Linked DNA regions of Homo sapiens. The protein of the gene in region 4 interacts with the protein of the main gene of each other region in a pairwise test. Each region holds a gene or a part of one and is shown on either strand. Other genes may lie near its edges.

What was found.
Region 1: the proteins of NEXN (region 4) and FAM107A interact in a two-hybrid assay, tested with the Homo sapiens proteins (one study listed by BioGRID).
Region 2: the proteins of NEXN (region 4) and FXR2 interact in binary tests that used the Homo sapiens proteins (3 or more experiments, as listed by UniProt).
Region 3: the proteins of NEXN (region 4) and ZNF250 interact in binary tests that used the Homo sapiens proteins (3 or more experiments, as listed by UniProt).
Region 5: the proteins of NEXN (region 4) and TRIM15 interact in a protein complementation assay, tested with the Homo sapiens proteins (one large-scale study listed by BioGRID).

What each region holds. Positions count from the first base shown.
Region 1 is NC_000003.12:58,563,606-58,567,397, reverse strand, and holds the end of FAM107A (actin-associated protein FAM107A), read left to right. Parts: intron 1-33; coding exon 34-190; intron 191-702; coding exon 703-810; 3' UTR 811-3,281; downstream 3,282-3,792. UniProt on the Homo sapiens protein: Stress-inducible actin-binding protein that plays a role in synaptic and cognitive functions by modulating actin filamentous (F-actin) dynamics. Mediates polymerization of globular actin to F-actin. Also binds to, stabilizes and bundles F-actin.
Region 2 is NC_000017.11:7,597,891-7,601,407, forward strand, and holds part of FXR2 (RNA-binding protein FXR2), read right to left. Parts: intron 1-3,517. UniProt on the Homo sapiens protein: mRNA-binding protein that acts as a regulator of mRNAs translation and/or stability, and which is required for adult hippocampal neurogenesis. Specifically binds to AU-rich elements (AREs) in the 3'-UTR of target mRNAs.
Region 3 is NC_000008.11:144,891,439-144,894,955, forward strand, and holds part of ZNF250 (zinc finger protein 250), read right to left. Parts: intron 1-3,517. UniProt on the Homo sapiens protein: May be involved in transcriptional regulation.
Region 4 is NC_000001.11:77,895,107-77,898,623, reverse strand, and holds part of NEXN (nexilin), read right to left. Parts: intron 1-3,517. UniProt on the Homo sapiens protein: Involved in regulating cell migration through association with the actin cytoskeleton. Has an essential role in the maintenance of Z line and sarcomere integrity.
Region 5 is NC_000006.12:30,162,349-30,166,360, reverse strand, and holds the start of TRIM15 (E3 ubiquitin-protein ligase TRIM15), read right to left. Parts: upstream 2,816-4,012; 5' UTR 2,760-2,815; coding exon of another isoform or gene 2,758-2,759; 5' UTR 2,677-2,757; coding exon 2,296-2,676; intron 1-2,295.

The DNA.
Region 1 (3,792 bases), on a different chromosome or scaffold from region 4:
GGTCTCCTGACAGCTCCCCACTTCCCACCCCAGGGGCCTTGGTGTGGACAGCAAGCCAGAGCTGCAGCGTGTCCTAGAGCACCGCCGGCGGAACCAGCTCATCAAGAAGAAGAAGGAGGAGCTGGAAGCCAAGCGGCTGCAGTGCCCCTTTGAGCAGGAGCTGCTGAGACGGCAGCAGAGGCTGAACCAGGTGGGTGATGGGCACCCAGCAGGGACCACGCATCCTCCAGGGCTGTCCTCCAGGGAGGAGCTCTGCTGTGGCCACAGCTAGTAAGAGGGAAGAGGATCAGCAGACAGAGCACTGGACTAAGAGTCCACTCCTGGCCTGAGTCCTCCCTCTGCCATTCACTTTGCTAGGTCCTTAGGGCGAGTGGCTTCCCTGAACCTCAGCTTCCTCACTGGCCCAGTGTACTGCATGCTGATTCTGATTTCATTCTTATAACTGTCTTGTGAGCCAGGTGGCATTCCCATTTTAGAGATGGGGAAGCTGAGGCCCAGAGGGGGTGAGTGATTTGAACCAGGCTGCACAAGGAGAACTCAGTCTCATGCTCTGTGCCCCAGCTACCAGGCTGATAGCAAAACTCATCCCCAGGTTGGTTCTGTTTCCCCACTGAGTGGGCCCTTGGTCCAAACTCCACAGGTTTTCAGAGTAGGAATCCCCCTAGCTCCACCCACTTCACTCTCTGCTTCTCCCTCCTTCAGCTGGAAAAACCACCAGAGAAGGAAGAGGATCACGCCCCCGAGTTTATTAAAGTCAGGGAAAACCTGCGGAGAATTGCCACACTGACCAGCGAAGAGAGAGAGCTGTAGGGCCAGCTGCCGGGCTCAGGCCACTGCCCACCCTGGCCTGGACAGCCTCCTTCAGCCCTTCTGTACCTGGCAGCCCTGGGCCCCAGGCCCTGGGACGTCTGTGATGTTCCCACCTGCTTCTGTAGAAATGTGTCACCCCAGAGGGCCTGGCTCTCCCTGGGAGGCTGGGGCCCCTAAGCTCCTAGGTTTTCCTTCCAAGCACCCAGCCCTCCTGCTCCAAGAGGGATAACCTGCACCCCTCCCTGCAAGGGGTTCAGAGCCCAGCACAGGAGCTTTCTCTGGCAGAATTGAGGAGGAAGAGGTGGCCCTCTGACTTGACAAGCCTTCTGTTCTGCCCAGGCCTTCCCACCAGGAATCTCCGAGGCTCCCCAGGGCCCCGCTTCTCCGTACACCCCAGCTCCTAGGTCTCAGAGAACTCCCCCACCTGTGGTTTTACCTGCAGCCAGCAGAGCTTAGCTTCAAGGACACCTGCCTTCAAAGCCACTGAGGGGAGGAAGGGCAGGGCAGACTGCAGATGGCCTTGTTGCTGGCATCCCGGCCAGGTGGGCGGGGACTAACAAAGACAGCTGTTTAGGGTCTTCTCCCCTCACCCATGCTTTCATCATCCCCTCCGCACAGCCTCCCCGTCCAGGCCTTCTAACCACACCTACCCAGGGCTGCCGCATTCCTGCACTCAGAAGTCTGCAGCGGTGCCTCACAAACTTGATTGTGCATAAAAATCACTGGGGATCTTGTTAATACAGCTTCTAACTCAATAGATCTGGGAGATCCTGCATTTCTAACAAGCTCCCAGGTAAGGCGGAGGCTGCTGGTGTGAGGACCATGCTGTGAGCAGCAGGGCGAGAGTGCCCAGGGCTGATATATATTGGAAATATCACCCCTGAAGCCATCGCTGGCCCCCACCTCCTGTGGACTGATGCCCCAGGGATTCCCACCCCACTTCTGCAACCCCAGGTATCCTTCATTATCCACCCCATCCCAGACTCCCACCCCAGGGATTGCCCGTGAAGACTTTGGCCTAGCAAATTGTGTTGGTTATGTGAGTGTTGTTTTAATCAGAGATGTACATGATTGCCAATCTGCATTTCTTACCAGTGTGACCACACTGTTACGATGCAATTCTAGCCAAAAAAAAAAAAAAAAAAAAAAAAATTTTTTTTTTTTACTTTTTCCTAGTCTTATGGAAAGCAAATATACAATGATTTTCAGTAGGCTTCTGGAATAGAAACAGTGGTTTGAAGACCCCACTGCCACCTTTATGGACTGGCCCCTTTGAGTCTGAATCCCCGGCCTCTGTCACCTGAGACCCAACCCCTAGCTGGGCCAACTCCAGTGAATTCACCCATTTTTCTTCTTCAGAAGGCCTTTCCTGTGTGAGACCCACATATTTTAACCTTTTGCTCCTATCCCATTTTTAAAGAATTAGAGAATAAACCAGGCCTGTTTCTTTTCCCCTGAAATCCCTGCCTCTGGCTTCCTAAACCCATCATCTAAGGTGACAGAGCAGTGCTGGAATAGCATCTCCTTTCACTTTCCCAAAACTGCCACAGATAGCTGCCACTGGCATGCTCTTTGATTCCTGGAAGCAAACGTGGGACTGTCGGAGGAAAGGGATTGTTCTGGTCTTACTCATAACTGGGTGGTTTGAGGGTGACTGAAGTCGTGCTTTTCCTGTGTGTGCTGCCAGCACAGGGCTGTAAATGCAGATATTGCGCCTGTGTGCGTGTGTATAAGTCAAGCTCCAAGAGGCTCCTGAATGTGACTGGCGTGCTGAGAATGTGTTTACGCTGTTTAATGTCTGCCAGGTGAGGGTTACACTGAAGATGCACAATCCCTAAAATAAAGATCACCACTTCCCCAAAGAAGCAGCCCTCGGGTCCATGTGTTGTTCAGACATGTGAAGAGAAGCAAGACAGAGGGTCTCAGATGGACGAGGGCTCTCCAAGGGAATGCCTGGGGATTCACCCAGTGGTCCCCAGAGGTGCTCCATGGAGGCAACAAGTCATTCCATGAAGCCCCAGAGGTAGAAGGGACCTCAAGCACCACGCCCTCCAGGGCAGCCGTGCAGACGACCTTGGTTCACTTTTCAGGGGTCGTCCCAACTCTGTATCTCCAGCCACTCCAACTGTGGAGGCTGTAAATCCAGATTTTCACTGTTCCAGTCTCCTTTGCAGCTTAGGATGGCTATGTGATCAGGTGTGGCCAATGAAATTGAAGAGGAAGTCTACCTGGGCTTCTGGGAAAGCTTTTCCAATAAAAGACACAGGCATGGCTAACACCTCCCTGGGCCTCTTCTTCCTACCTTGATTGAGGGTGTGATGCCTGGAGCCACAGCAGCCACTTTGCTACCATGACAAAAAGGCCAAGAGAATCACAGAGTCATTGACCCTATCATTATTTCACCAAGCCAATACCAGCCGCCATCCTTCTCCAGAATTCTTGTAAATAAAATAAATCCCTCTTTGTTTAAACCATTGTTGGTCAGTCTCTGTTACTTGCAACCAAAATCATCCCTAACTGACACAGAAGGCCAGTCCCTGCCTGTCCAAAATTACCTGCAGGCTGTGCTAAAAATCCAGATTCAACTTTCCCATCAGAAGCCTATTGGATCAGGATCCCCAGCTGCAATGCCTGGGATCTGTTTTTCTGCACCTTCCCCATATAGCCTACCTAGCATGAGTCTGAAAACTGGTACTTGGACATGACTAAAGCACACATCATTCAACAAATATTTATCGAGTTCCTGCTCCATGCCAGGATGCATGCCATAGGCTGGGACACAGTAGAGAACAAAGGTGCAGTGCCTCCCCCTCATCTGATGACTGCAGTGGTCTCCTCCCAACTGGTCTCCCCTACTGGCCTTGTCCCTACACCCTGTTCTCAACAGAGGAGCCAAAATGATCTTCCTCCAGTCTAAGGCAGAACTTGCGACTCTGCACAGAGCCCTCCCTGGGCTCCCAGTGGAGTCTCTCCTGCATTCCA
Region 2 (3,517 bases), on a different chromosome or scaffold from region 4:
CACAAAAACACACATCACTGGAGATTCCAAGGATTTTAGAAGTTGAATGCCAGGAGCCTGGTCAGGAGACCAAATATGTATCTCTCAGTATCACAGAGCCTGTCAGTCCTACTGGTTTTACTCGTAAAATTTATCCTACATAAAACTACTCTCTCTCTCTTCCTTTAGCACTCCAGTTCAAGTTTCTCACCTGGACTACTGTGCTCTGTTCCTGCTTCCATTCTTGCCCCCCTTTCCATCTGTCATTGAAACAGGAGTTTAAAACAGAAGGCACTTTCGGCCGGGCACAGTGGCTCTCGCCTGTAATCCCAGCACTTTGGGAGGCCGAGGTGGGTGGATCACGAGGTCAGGAGATCAAGACCATCCTGGCTAACACGGTGAAACCCCATCTCTACTAAAAAAAAATACAAAAAAATCAGCCGGGCGTGGTGGCAGGCGCCTGTAGTCCCAGCTTCTCGTGAGGCTGAGGCAGGAGAATGGCGTGAACTTGGGAGGTGGAGCTTGCAGTGAGCCGAGATCACGCCAATGCACTCCAGCCTGGGTGACAGAGCGAGACTCCGTCTCAAAAACAAAACAAAACAAAACAAAACAAAAAACCAGAAGGCACTGTTAACTCAATGGCTTCTCAGTATACGCACAATAAAATCCCCCCTCCTCAGCCTACCGTACATGTCTTACATGATCTACTCTCTGACCGAATTTTGTATCGGTCTCCCTTTGCTCACTCTGCGCTAACTACACAAGCTGCAGTGAGCTGAGATCGCACTACTGCACTCCAGCCTGGACGACAGAATGAGACTCCGTCTCAAAAAATTAAAAAACAACAACAAAAATTAGGCCGGGTGCAATGGGTCATGTCTATAATCCCAGCACTTTGGGAGGCCAAGGCAAGTGGATCCCTTGAGGCCAGGGGTTCGCGACCAGCCTAGCCAACATGGTGAAACTCCGTCTCTACTAAAAATACTGAAATTAGGGCCAGGTATAGTGGCTCATGCCTGTAATCCCAGTACTTTGGGAGGCCAAGGCAGGTGGATCACCTGCGGTCGGGAGTTCAAAACCAGCCTGGGCAACATGGTGAAACACTAAAAAAGCAAAAATTATCCAGACGTGGGGGCGCGTGCCTATTATCCCAGCTACCTGGGAGGCCGAGGCACAAGAATCGCTTGAACCCAGGAGCGAGAGGTTGCAGGGAGCGGAGATTGTGCCATTGCACTCCAGCCTGGGTGACAGAGGGAAACTGTCTCCAAAAAAAAAAAAAAAATAGCCAGGTATGGTGGCATGCACCTGTAATCCCACCCACCCAAAGGCTGAGGTGAGAGGATCACTTGAGCTCGGGGGGTAGAGACTGCAGTGAGCTGAGATCGCACCACTACATACACTCCAGCCTGGATAACAGACTGAGACTCCATCTCAAAACAAAAAACAAAAACAAAAAATAAAGTTTGTATCATCTGAAGGTAATGGTGAATTTTTACCTGCCAGTGCCCTGAGCAGGATCCCTGAAGAAGTCAAAGATTATCATGACCCAGAAATTGCACAGGCACAGAAAAAAGCCTCCCAAAAAGATCAATTCCCTTGATAAATGGAAATGGTATTCAAACACACACACCCTATTCACTTAGAATAGTATAATACCAACGAAAGGGAATCTGACAATTATACGATGTCAGAATTCAAAAAGATCTCACAGAAATACTCTAGTCAGGCCAGGCGTGGTGGCTGACACCTGTAATCCCAACATTTTGGGAGGTCGAGGTGGGCGGATCACCTGAGGTCCATAGTTTGAGATCAGCCTGGCCAACATGGTGAAACCCCATCTCTACTAAAAAAGACAAAAATTAGCCAGGTGTGATGGCACACACCTGTAATCCCAGCTACTTGGGAGGCTGAGGCAGGAGAATCGCTTCAATCTGGGAGGTGGAGGTTGCAGTAAGCCAAGATAGCGCCACTGCGCTCTAGCCTGGGCGACAGAGACGCTATCTCAAAAAACAAACAAAAAAACAAGAAATATCCTTTTTTTCTTTGAGATGGAGTTTCACTCTTGTTGCCCAGGCTGGAGTACAATGGTGTGATCTCGGCTCACTGCAACCTCCGCCTCCCAGGTTCAAGCGATTCTCCTGCCTCAGCCTCCCGAGTAGCTGGGACAACAGGCGCCTGCCACCACGCCTGGCTAATTTTTGTAGTTTTAGTAGAGACGGGGTTTCACCCATGTTGGCCAGGCTGGTCTTGAACTCCCGACCTCAGGTGATCTGCCCGCCTCAGCCTCCCAAAGTGCTGGGATTACAGACGTGGGCCACCGCGCCCAGTCATATCCTTTTTTTCTTTGAGACAGAGTTTCACTCTTGTCACCCAGGCTGAAGTGCAATGGCGCAATCTTGGCTCACTGCAACCTCCACTTCCCAGGTTCAAGCGATTCTCCTGCCTCAGTCTCTCGAGTAGCTGAAATTACAGGCATGTGCCACCACGCCCAGCTGATTTTTGTCTTCTTAGTAAAGATGGGGTTTCACCAGTCTCGACTCCCAACCTCGGATTGATCTGCCTGCCTCGGCCTCCCAAAGTGCTAAAGTGCTGCGATTAAAGGCGTGAGCCACCGCGCCCACCCTAAAAAATAAATATTCTAGTCTAGGCTGCATGTGGTGGCTCACACCTGTAATCCTAGCACTTTGCAAAGTACAGGCAGATGGATCTCTTGAGCCTAGAAGTTCAAGACCAAGGCCGGGCGCAGCGGCTCATGTCTGTAATCCCAGCACTTTGGGAGGCCGAGGCAGGTGGATCATGAGGTCAGGAGTTTGAGACCAGCCTGGTCAACATGGTGAAACCCCATCAATACTAAAAATACAAAAATGAGCTGGGTGTGGTGGCACAAGCCTGTAGTCCCAGCTACTCAGGAGGCTGAGGCGGGAGAATCGCTTGAACCCAGAAGGTGGATGTTGCAGTCAGCTGAGACTATACCATTACACTACAGCCTGGGTGACAAAGTGAGACTCCGTCTCAAAAAAAACCATTCAGCCAGGTGTGGTGGCTCACGCCTGTAATCCCAGCACTTTGGGAGGCTGAGGCGGGTGGATCACATGAGGCCAGGAGTTCGAGGCCAGCTTGGGCAACATGGCAAAACCCCATCTTACTAATAATACAAAACTTAGCCGGGTGTGGTGGCGCACGCCTGTAATCCCAGCTACTCAGAAGGCTGAGGCATGAGAATCGCTTAAACACAGGAGGCAGGGGTTGCAGTGAGCCGAGATCGTGTCATTGCACTCCAGCCTAGGCGACACAGCGAGACTCTGTCTCCCAAAAAAAAAAAAAAAAAATTGGCTAAAAGAAATTTGAAAATAATTGCACTATACCATGATAGAGCTCTGCCATCTGGAGGAGTCTGAGATAAAATAGCTGACCCAGGTTTAATTGCCCAGAAAAAGCCTTAGTCTTTGTTCTGTAAACACAAGATCATGGATGGAGGACAGGGTAGGAAGGGAGGAAGACAATACCCTTCAGCAGAAGGAAAAGGAGCTAAAAGTTA
Region 3 (3,517 bases), on a different chromosome or scaffold from region 4:
GGCGCGGTGGCTCATACCTGTAATCTCAGCACTTTGGGAGGGTGAGGCAGGCACATCACCGGAGGTCAGGAGTTTGAGACCAGCCTGGCCAACATGGTGAAACCCCGTCTCTACTAAAAATACAAAAATCAGGCCGGGTGCAGTGGCTTATGCCTGTAATCCCAGCACTTTGGGAGGCCGAGGCAGGCGGATCACCCGAGGTTGGGAGTTCGAGACCAGCCATGACCAACATGGGGAAACCCCGTCTCTACTAAAAACACAAAATTAGCCGGGTGTGGTGGTGCACGCCTGTAGTCCCAGCTACTCAGGAGGCTGAGGCAAGAGAATTGCTTGAACTCAGGAGGTGGAGGATGCGATGAGCCGAGATCATGCCATTGCACTCCAGCCTGGGCAACCAAGAGCAAAACTCCATCTCAAAACAAAAACAAAAACAAAAATCAGCTGGGTGTGGTGGCGGGTGCCTGTAATCCCAACTACTCAGGAGGCTAAGGCAGGAGAATCACTTGAACCCAGGATGTGGAGGTTGCAGTGAGCTGAGATCATCTCAGCTGAGACTCTGTCTCAAAACAAAACAAAAAAAACACACATCAGATACATGTATATATTTGCACAGACAACTTTCAGGAAGATACACAATAAACTAACTGCCTGCCTCTGAAGAACAGGACAGGGAAACACAGTTGGAGAGAGACTGACTTTCAACCCTCCCCCGTGCTGCTGTTCTCCAAAAATGCCCATTCCCTCCAAATGTGTGTGTGAGCACACTTCTGTGTTAGCGCAATGCAACTCTAATTAGAATTCCAACAGAAGTCTTTTAAAGGAATGACTACAACTACTTGAGAATTCATAAGAAGAATGGATGCTAGAGAATAGCCAAGAATTTAACTGGAAAGAACAGAGGGTGGGGACTGCCTTGCCAGGAATCAGAGCCAAGGGTGGGTAGGAAGCCGCTGCAATTAAACCAACAAGTTGTTGACAGAGGAACAGATGAAGCCAGACAGGTATGTGGGAAATTGGAAGATAACAAAAATGTTACATTTTAGTTCAGCAGGAAATCAGTGGTTCCTTTAGTAACTTGTGTGTACCCAGATGGGATACATCAATAACCAATTTTTTTGTTTGTTTTTTTTTTTGAGACAGAGTTTCACTCTTGTTGCCCAGGCTGGAATGCAACGGCGAGATCTCGGCTCACCGCAACCTCCACCTCCTGGGTTCAAGTGATTCTCCTGTCTCAGCCTCCCAAGTAGCTGGGATTACAGGCATGCGCCACCATGCCCAGCTAATTTTTTTTGTATTTTTAGTAGGGACAGGGTTTCTCCATGTTGGTCAGGCTGGTCTTGAACTCCCGACCTCAGGTGATCCGCCCGCCTTGGCCTCCCAAAGTGCTGGGATTACAGGCGTGAGCCACCGTGTCCAGCCACCAATTTTTTTTTTTTTTTGAGACGAAGTCTTGCTCTGTCACCCAGGCTGGGATGCAATGGGGTGATCTTGGCTCACCGCAACCCCTGCCTCCCAGGTTCAAGCAATTCTCCTGCCTCAGCCTCCCGAGTAGCTGGGATTACAAGCACCCACCAGCACGCTCGGCTAATTTTTTAAATATTTTTAGTAGAGATGGGTTTTCACCATCTTGGTCAGGCTGGTCTCGAACTCCCGACCTCAGGTGATCCACCCGCCTTGGCCTCCCAAAGTGCTGGGATTACAGGCATGAGCCACCACGCCCAGCCCAACAATAACCAATTTTGGATTAAGATGAAGACCAAGTGTGAGCATTAACAGTGGCCTCATGTGCTCCTGGTCCCCCTGTCTGACATCTGCCTACCCTCAAGGGCAGAAGTGCCTTCTCTCCTGCCACACCCTGACCCTTTCCATGGGTCACCCACCAGCGCACAGATCTGCCATTTCTTTATTTTGAAACAGAATCTCGCTCTGTCACCCAGGCTGGAGTGCAGTGGCATGATCTAGGCTCACTGCAACCTCCGTCTCCCAGGCTCAAGCGATCCTCCTACCTTAGCCTCCTGAGTAGCTGGGACTACAGACACCTGCCTCCATGCCCGGCTAATTTTTGTACTTTTTGTAGGTACGGGGTTTCACCATGTTGCCCAGGCTGGTCTCGAACCCCTGAGCTCAAGTGATATGCCCCTCTTGGCCTCCTAGAGTGCTGGAATTACAGGCTTGAGTCACTGCGCCTAGCCCTGCATGCGAATTTGACCTTGGGTGAATGCACAGCTCTGGTCCCCTGGAAACCTGGCAGAGGTGGATGGTCATTCTCTCTACGGACCAATCACACCTGGGCTGTGACTCAATGATGAACAACCACAGGAAGTACATTCAGGGCCTCCCTAGCAGGTCTTGCAGCCAGTTCTCTTGACACAGGAGGTGCTGGCTTGTATGACCACGAGGCTTTCGACTAGGCTAACTCCTCCTCCTACCTGCATCTTGTGTTTATGCACCTCAGTACTCCCTGGATGGCTGCTGGATGATGCTGGCCAGCTTTTCCGAGAAGCTGCTGCTAGGCATGGTTGTCCTGTGAGTCTGAAAAGTCAGTTGAGCCCAGTAGCTCTTTTGGTACACTTGAGCTCGTGATCCCCCTTCCCTCTGACTCAACCTTTCAATATGGGTGTCTCATAGCATCTCAGACATTTAACATCCCAAACCAAGCACCCCCTCTACCATCATTTCTACCCCCAGCTTGGTCTGTGAGCCTGTGCATCAGCCTCCTTCCTTCTTCACTCCCACACTTCTATTCACCTTCCAAGCACATCCAGAACCTGACCATGTTGCCCATCTCGCCCTCCCTGCCCCATGACAACCACCCCTAGATGTTCGGCAGCTCCCATCTGGGCAGACAGACTCCCAGCACCGTCTGTCTGCCCAGCCCCTCCATCTACCTTCCTGTGAGAACACAGTGACTGTCCTCTGCTCCAAGGTCCTCCCAGGACCCCACTGGCTCCTATGGGCATGCCCCAAACTTTGTGATTTTCCTCAGAGCCCTGCAGCCCTTTATCCCTTGGCCTGTGCTCCCCATCCAACTCTTAGAGACCTCTGCCCCACCCACCGCAGCAGCCCTGGCCTCACCCAGCTCTCATCCTATCCCTTTCTCCTGCACCAGCAGACCAAGAAGCAGGCCCAACAGAGTAATCAGTGGTCGACCTTTTTTTTTTTTTTTTAATTACTTCTAGGCTAATGATTACAAATTGCCAGGCAATGTACTTTTTTAAACTTTTAATTAATTTCTTAGAGACGGGGTCTCACTTTGTAGTCCAGGCTGGAGTACAGTGGCTCAATCACAGCTCAATGCAGCCTCCAACTCCTGGGCTCAGGTGATCCTCCCACTTCAGCATCCCAAGTAGCTAGGAATACAGGTTGCACCACCATGCCTGGATAATTTCTTAATTTTTTTTTTTTGGTAGAGACGAGGTCTTGCTGTGTTGCCCAGACTGGTCTTGAACTCCTAGGCTCAAGGGATCCTCCCTCCTTGGCCTCCGAAAGTGTCAAGATTACAGGCCTGAGAACACCA
Region 4 (3,517 bases):
TGTTTTAGACATGAAGTCCTTGCCCATGCCTGTGTCCTGAATGGTATTGCCTAGGTTTTCTTCTAGGGTTTTTATGCTTTTAGGTCTAACATTTAAGTATTTAATCCATCTTGAATTAATTTTTCTACAAGGTATAAGGAAGGGATCCAGTTTCAGCTTTCTACATATGGCTAGCCAGTTTTCCCAGCACCATTTATTAAATAGGGAATCCTTTCCCCATTGCTTGTTTTTCTCAGGTTTGTCAAAGATCAGATAGTTGTAGATATGTGGCATTATTTCTGAGGGCTCTGTCCTGTTCCATTGATCTATATCTCTGTTTTGGTACCAGTACCGTGCTGTTTTGGTTACTGTAGCCTTGTAGTATAGTTTGAAGTCAGGTAGCGTGATGCCTCCAGCTTTGTTCTTTTGGCTTAGGATTGGCTTGGTGATGCGGGTTCTTTTTTGGTTCCATATGAACTTTAAAGTAGTTTTTTCCAATTCCGTGAAGAAAGTCATTGGTAGCTTGATGGGGATGGCATTGAATCTATAAATTACCTTGGGCAGTATGGCCATTTTCATGATATTGATTCTTCCTATGCATGAGCATGGAATGTTCTTCCATTTGTTTGTATCCTCTTTTATTTCATTGAGCAGTGGTTTGTAGTTCTCCTTGAAGAGGTCCTTCACTTCCCTTGTAAGTTGGATTCCTAGGTATTTTATTCTCTTTGAAGCAATTGTGAATGGGAGTTCACTCATGATTTGGCTCTCTGTTTGTCTGTTATTGGTGTATAAGAATGCTTGTGATTTTTGCACATTGATTTTGTATCCTGAGACTTTGCTGAAGTTGCTTATCAGCTTAAGGAGATTTTGGGCTGAGACAGTGGGGTTTTCTACATATACAATCATGTCATCTGCAAACAGGGACAATTTGACTTTCTCTTTTCCTAATTGAATACCCTTTATTTCCTTCTCCTGCCTAATTGCCCTGGCCAGAACTTCCAACACTATGTTGAATAGGAGTGGTGAGAGAGGGCATCCCTGTCTTGTGCCAGTTTTCAAAGGGAATGCTTCCAGTTTTTGTCCATTCAGTATGATATTGGCTGTGGGTTTGTCATAGATAGCTCTTATTATTTTGAGATACATCCCATCAATACCTAATTTATTGAGAGTTTTTAGCATGAAGCATTGTTGAATTTTGTCAAAGGCCTTTTCTGCATCTATTGAAATAATCATGTGGTTTTTGTCTTTGGTTCTGTTTATATGCTGGATTACATTTATTGATTTGCGTATATTGAACCAGCCTCACATCCCAGGGATGAAGCCCACTTGATCATGGTGGATAAGCTTTTTGATGTGCTGCTGGATTCAGTTTGCCAGTATTTTATTGAGGATTTTTGCATCAATGTTCATCAAGGATATTGGTCTAAAATTCTCTTTTTTGGTTGTGTCTCTGCCAGGCTTTGGTATCAGGATGATGCTGGCCTCATAAAATGAGTTAGAGAGGAGTCCCTCTTTTCCTATTGATTGGAATAGTTTCAGAAGGAATGGTACCAGCTCTTCTTTGTACCTCGGTAGAATTCGGCTGTGAATCCATCTGGTCCTGGACTTTTTTTGGTTGGTAAGCTATTGATTATTGCCACAACTTCAGAGCCTGTTATTGGTCTATTCAGAGATTCAACTTCTTCCTGGTTTAGTCTTGGGAGGGTGTATGTGTTGAGGAATTTATCCATTTCTTCTAGATTTTCTAGTTTATTTGCGTAGAGGTGTTTGTAGTATTCTCTGATGGTAGTTTGTATTTCTGTGGGATCGGTGGTGATATCCCCTTTATCATTTTTTATTGCATCTATTTGATTCTTCTCTCTTTTCTAAATTTTTTTTTTTTTAATTAGACAGAGTCTTGCTCTGTCACCCAGGCTGGAGTGCAGTGGTGCAATCTCAGCTCACTGCAACCTCTGCCTCCCAGGTTCAAGCAGTTCTGTGCCTCAGCCTCCCGAGTAGCTGGGATTACAACTGTCTGCCACCACACTCAGCTAATTTTTGTATTTTTAGTAGGGATGGGGTTTCACCATATTGGCCAGGCTGGCCTTGAACTCCTGAGCTCCACCCGCCTCGGGCTCCCAAAGTGCTGGGATTACAGGTGTGAGCCACCATGCCCAGCCTTCTTGATGGAACTTACACTGTAGTGGGGCACAATTGCAAGAGGTTTGGCCAATTTGATTTGGAGGGGTAGAGGTGAGGAGAGGAATATTGTCAAGAATGAACCCAAGCAAGAGTCAGAGGATGAGAAATAAACAAACAAACAAGTAAATAAAAAAGGATGAACCCAAGGTTTCTAGTTTGAGCAAATGGGTGAACAGGGTTACCATTAACTGGAGATTAAATTAAAAGGCATGTTTAAGTCAGAAAATGAGCTCAGTTTCTGAGTCACTGTGCTTGGCCGACAACTTATTTATTTATTTATTTATTTATTTATTGAGACAAAGTCTCACTGTGTCACCCAAGCTGGAGAGCAGTGGTGTCATTTCTGCTCACTGCAACCTTTGCCTCCTGGGTTCAAGCAATTCTCCTGCCTCAGCCTCCCGAATAGCTGGGATTACAGGCACATGCAACCACACCTGGCTAATTTTTTTTAGTACAGACAGGGTTTCACCATGTTGGCCAAGCTGGTCTCCAACTCCTGACCTCAAGTGATCTGCTCACCTAAGCCTACCAAAGTGCTGGGATTACAGATGTGAGCCACTGTGCCCAACCAGGCTGTCAACTTTTAAGATTTCTTTTTTGAGATGGAGTCTTGCTCTGTCGCCCAGGCTGGAGTGCAATGGCACTATCTCAGCTCACTGCAACCTCCACCTCCCAGGTTCAAGTGATTCTCATGCCTCAGCCTCCTAAGTAGCTGGGATTACAGGTGTGCACTACCACACCCGGCTAATTTTTGTATTTTTTAGCAGAGATGGGGTTTCACCATGTTGACCAGACTGATCTCTAACTCCTGGCCTCAAGAGATCCGCCTGCCTTGCACCCCCAAAGTGCTGGAATTACAGGCGTGAGCCACAGTGCCCAGCCAACTTTTAAGAAGATTTTAAACGTAATACTTAACTATATGCTACAAGTAAATGTTGAAACCTAATTCTTACAGTCTTTGGAACAAGCAACAAAATTGTTTTGAGCTTCATAAAATATGAGCCTAAATTTTTATCATTTTTCACTTGTACAGGAAACATAAACTTAGGTATAATGTAACTTTATTGCATTTAATTAATGAAGGTTGCAACCTTATACTTTAAAAATTACACTATAGGTGACCGGGCGCGGTGGCTCATGCCTGTAATCCCAGCACTTTCAGAGGCCAAGGCGGGCGGATCAAGAGGTCAGGAGATCGAGACCATCCTGGCTAACACGGCGAAACCCCATCTCTACTAAAAATACAAAAAAATTAGCCAATCATGGTGGCGGGTGCCTGTAGTCCCAGCTACTCGGGAGGCTGAGGCAGGAGAATGGTGTGAATCTGGGAGGCGGAGTTTGCAGTGAGCTGAGATTG
Region 5 (4,012 bases), on a different chromosome or scaffold from region 4:
TCCCTATTTAATAAATGGTGTTGGGAAAACTGGCTAGCCATATGCAGAAAACTGAAACTGGACCCCTTCCTTACACCTGAAATAAAAATTAACTCAAGATGGATTAAAGACTTAAACGTAAGACCTAAAACCATAAAAACCCTAGAAGAAAACCTAGGCAATACCATTCAGGACATAGGCATGGGCAAAGACTTCATGACTAGAACACCAAAAGCAATGGCAACAAAAGCCTAAATTGACAAATGGTATCTAATTAAATGAAAGAGCTTCTGCACAGCAAAAGAAACTATCATCAGAGTGAACAGGCAACCTACAGAATGGGAGAAACATTTTGCAATCTATCCATCTGACAAAGGGCTAATATCCAAAATCTACAAAGAACTTAAACAAATTTACAAGAAAAAAACAAACAGCCCCATCAAAAAGTAGGTGAAGGATATGAACAGACACTTCTCAAAAGAAGACATTTATGTGGCCAACAAACCTATGAAAAGAAGCTCATCATCACTGGTCATTAGAGAAATGCAAATCAAAACCACAATGAGATACCATCTCACACCAGTTAGAATGGTGATCATTAAAAAGTCAGGAAATAACAGATGCTGGAGATGATGTGGAGAAATAAGAATGCTTTTACAATGTTGGTGGGAGTGTAAATTAGTTCAACCGTTGTGGAAGACAGTGTGGCAACTCCTCAAGAATCTAGAATGAGAAATACCATTTGACCTGGCAATCCCATTACTGGGTATATACCCAGAGGATTATAAATTATCCTACTGTAAAGACACATGCACACATATGTTTATTGCAGCACTGTTCACAATAGCAAAGACTTGGAACCAACCCAAATGTCCATCAATGATAGACTGGATAAAGAAAATATGGCACATATATGCCATGGAATACTATGCAGGCATAAAAAAGATGTGTTCATGTCCTTTGCAGGGATATGGATGAAGCTGGAAACCATCATTCTCAGCAAACTAACACAGGAACAGAAAACCAAACACCACATGTTCTTACTCATAAGTGGGAGGTGAACAATGAGAACACATGGACACAGGGAGGGGAACATCACACATCGGGGCCTGTCAGGGCTTGGGGGACTAGGGGAGGGATAGCATTAGGAGAAATACCTAATGTAGATGATGGATTGATGGGTGCAGCAAACCACCATGGCACGTATATACCTATGTAACAAACCTGCACGTTCTGCATATGTATCCCAGAACATGTATAATAAAAAAAAAAAGAAAAGGACTTAGTGCCCCTGAATTGTATACTTAAAAACAGAGAGAGAGGTGGGAGGAAGGGAGAAGAGTATTCTAGGAGGAAGAGACTATGTGCAAAAAGTATTGGAAGCAGGAATGAATAAGACAACTCAGGAAAAAACAGCAAGTGCAGCTCAGTCTGGCCAGACACGTGGTGCCTTGAGGAGGGAGGCTGAGCGATGAGGCCGGACAGGGAGGAAGGATCCCGACTGCAAAGGGCCTTGAATGTCTTGCTAAAGACCTTGGACTTTCTTTGGGCACTAGGTATACATGGGAGGATTTTGTGCAGATGAGTGACTTTGTGTTTTAGGAGGATCTGTCTCCCAGCAGATTGGAAGGTGACTGGAAAGGGTGAGAATGGAGACAGGAAATGCCATGGAGACTGCAAAGTCTGCGCAAGAGATAGGGAGAACCTGGCTGTGAGGATAAGGCAGAATTAAAGATTTGGGAGATGTTTCTAAGGTAACCACTTCCAGACCTGGTGACTGGATGACAAGAGAGAGATCTGAGAGGCTGACAGGAAAGTGCCCCAAGGCCAGATGGGGAATTCTCACAATTCTGGACTACTGCCACCCTCCCTTTCTCAAGAAGAAGAGCAGTGCTAGCAGGTTCCCCTTCCCAGCTCCTCCCTCCCCTCTGCGCCCTGGCAGTCAGGGCCCTATAAACCCCATTTCCAGTCTGGATCCTGGGAGAACAAGTTTACCCTGCCCATAATCTGCAGAAGATCCCACTCGGCATTGGAGCTTTCTTTCCATAGTGAGTGAAGCCAAGGCTACAGTTCTTTGCACTCCACCTCTGTGGGGTCCTCTGAGAGCTGGAGCTGAAGTTCCCCCCAGACCAGGAACTACCACACATCCAAGTGGAGCCCTATCTGCCTTCAGTCTGGGAATGCCTCGAAAGTCCCTGTAACCTTAGGGTTCCCTGATGTGGAAGCCTTTCATCCAGATCCCCGCCCGATTTCCTCCCCTCATAACAGGACATCATCCTGCCCCAAACAGGCCCTAGGTAAAGCTACACTTCTTACCCGGTAGGGCTGAATGGCCTCGTCCAGGAACCCCACGGTGTGCGCCTGGTGCGTGGGACCCTCCCTGCAGAACACACAGAGGAACTCGGCATCGTTCTCGCAGAAGAAGTAGATCTTCTCGCCGTGCTCCTCGCAGTAAGTTTCTCCCAGCGGGCCCAGGGGCACAGGGGCCATGGGAGTCTCTGCCTGCTCCTCCTCTTGGCAGAGCGGGCAGAGCAGGATCTTGCCCGAGGATTGGGCCCCCATCTGGGAGAGCGCGGGGAGGCAGAGCCGGCAGAAGGTGTGTCCACAGGGAATGGTCACCGCATCCTCCAGCGGCCCCGCACAGAGGGTACAGGCAGGCAGCTCATGGACCACCTTCAGGGACGGGGTTGCGGGCATCACGGTGCCTTCCCCAGCCCGTCCACTCCGGTCTCCTCAGCCCACGCGAGTTCCCTTTCCCTGAAATCGAGTCACACTTACATGAATCGCAGAGGGAAACGGCTGCAAGGCTAAGAGACAGAGAGAGAGAAAGAGAGAGAGAGGCAAGAATGCCAGCACAGGGAAGCCACCTGGCTCCGCCTCTTGTGTTCCCTAGAACCCTGGCCACCACCTATCAGCGGAGTGGGTCCAAATTCCAGGGCGTCTCGAATTACCCAGAATTTCCCAGTGGCGGCCAAGTAAGCCAGTTCTTTACTCCTGGCTCCTTCTGGTCCCTAGGGTGGAGAACAGAGCACACCATGAGGTCACAGGGGGATGGGTTTCCTGGAATCTGTAGACCACAGTGGCTGGGGAGAACTGGGGAGCAGAAGCTTCCTGTCAGATTGAGCAGGTGGGAGCCATAAACTTCTGGCTCTGAGGCGTGCCCACAGCATCAAAGTCCAGGCTGGAGTGAGAGGTGTGGACTTCGGGAGATTCTGCCGGAAGTGTGTGGGCGGGACGCTGTTTCGACACTGCAGGTAGGGTGTAAGGATTGCTCATCGGGTCCCCTCTTCTGCTCTCCTTTCCTCCCTCACCACATCTGCCCATGGTGGCCCCTCCTACGGTCCCAAATCCCCCACCACCTGGCACAACAGTCCCCTTTGGGGTTCGGGTAACACTGGACTATTTTATTTATTTATTTATTTATTTATTTATTTATTTATTTATTTATTTTTACTGTAGCGGGGAGAAGGCAAGAAACCATAATGCAAATGATTTATGTTGATACACATTAGAAAACGATTAGTCAGATAATCAGTTTCAACCACATTTATCTAGGGTTTAGTATTTTTATATTACTACATTCAATTTTAATAACCCTCTAGGCAAACATTATTACCTTCATTTTACAGAGAAAGAAATGTAAACTGACTTTCCAAATGTAAAGTGACTTTCCAAAGGTCACAAAGCTAGAAAGTATCACGTTAAGGACGATCCCAGTCTCCTGGCTTAAAGCCCTACGCTCCTCCCACACCTCATGCCAAGACCAAGATCTGCAGCCACGGTCCTTCACCCATGCACACATCTGTGGATAAAACCAGGCCTTCCCCCATTCTCCCACTGGGTGATCAGCCTAGCCCCTTGTGGTTGCTCCCTTTTTACTCTAATCACTTTATTACCTCCCCTTCCCATCCAATCTCTGCTCTTCCTGCCACGAGTGCAGCCCAGGAACTAGTTTGTCCAATACAGGAGCCACCAGCCACATGTGTCTACTGAGCACTGAAATGTGGCCGGTCTGAATGGCGGCATGCTGTAT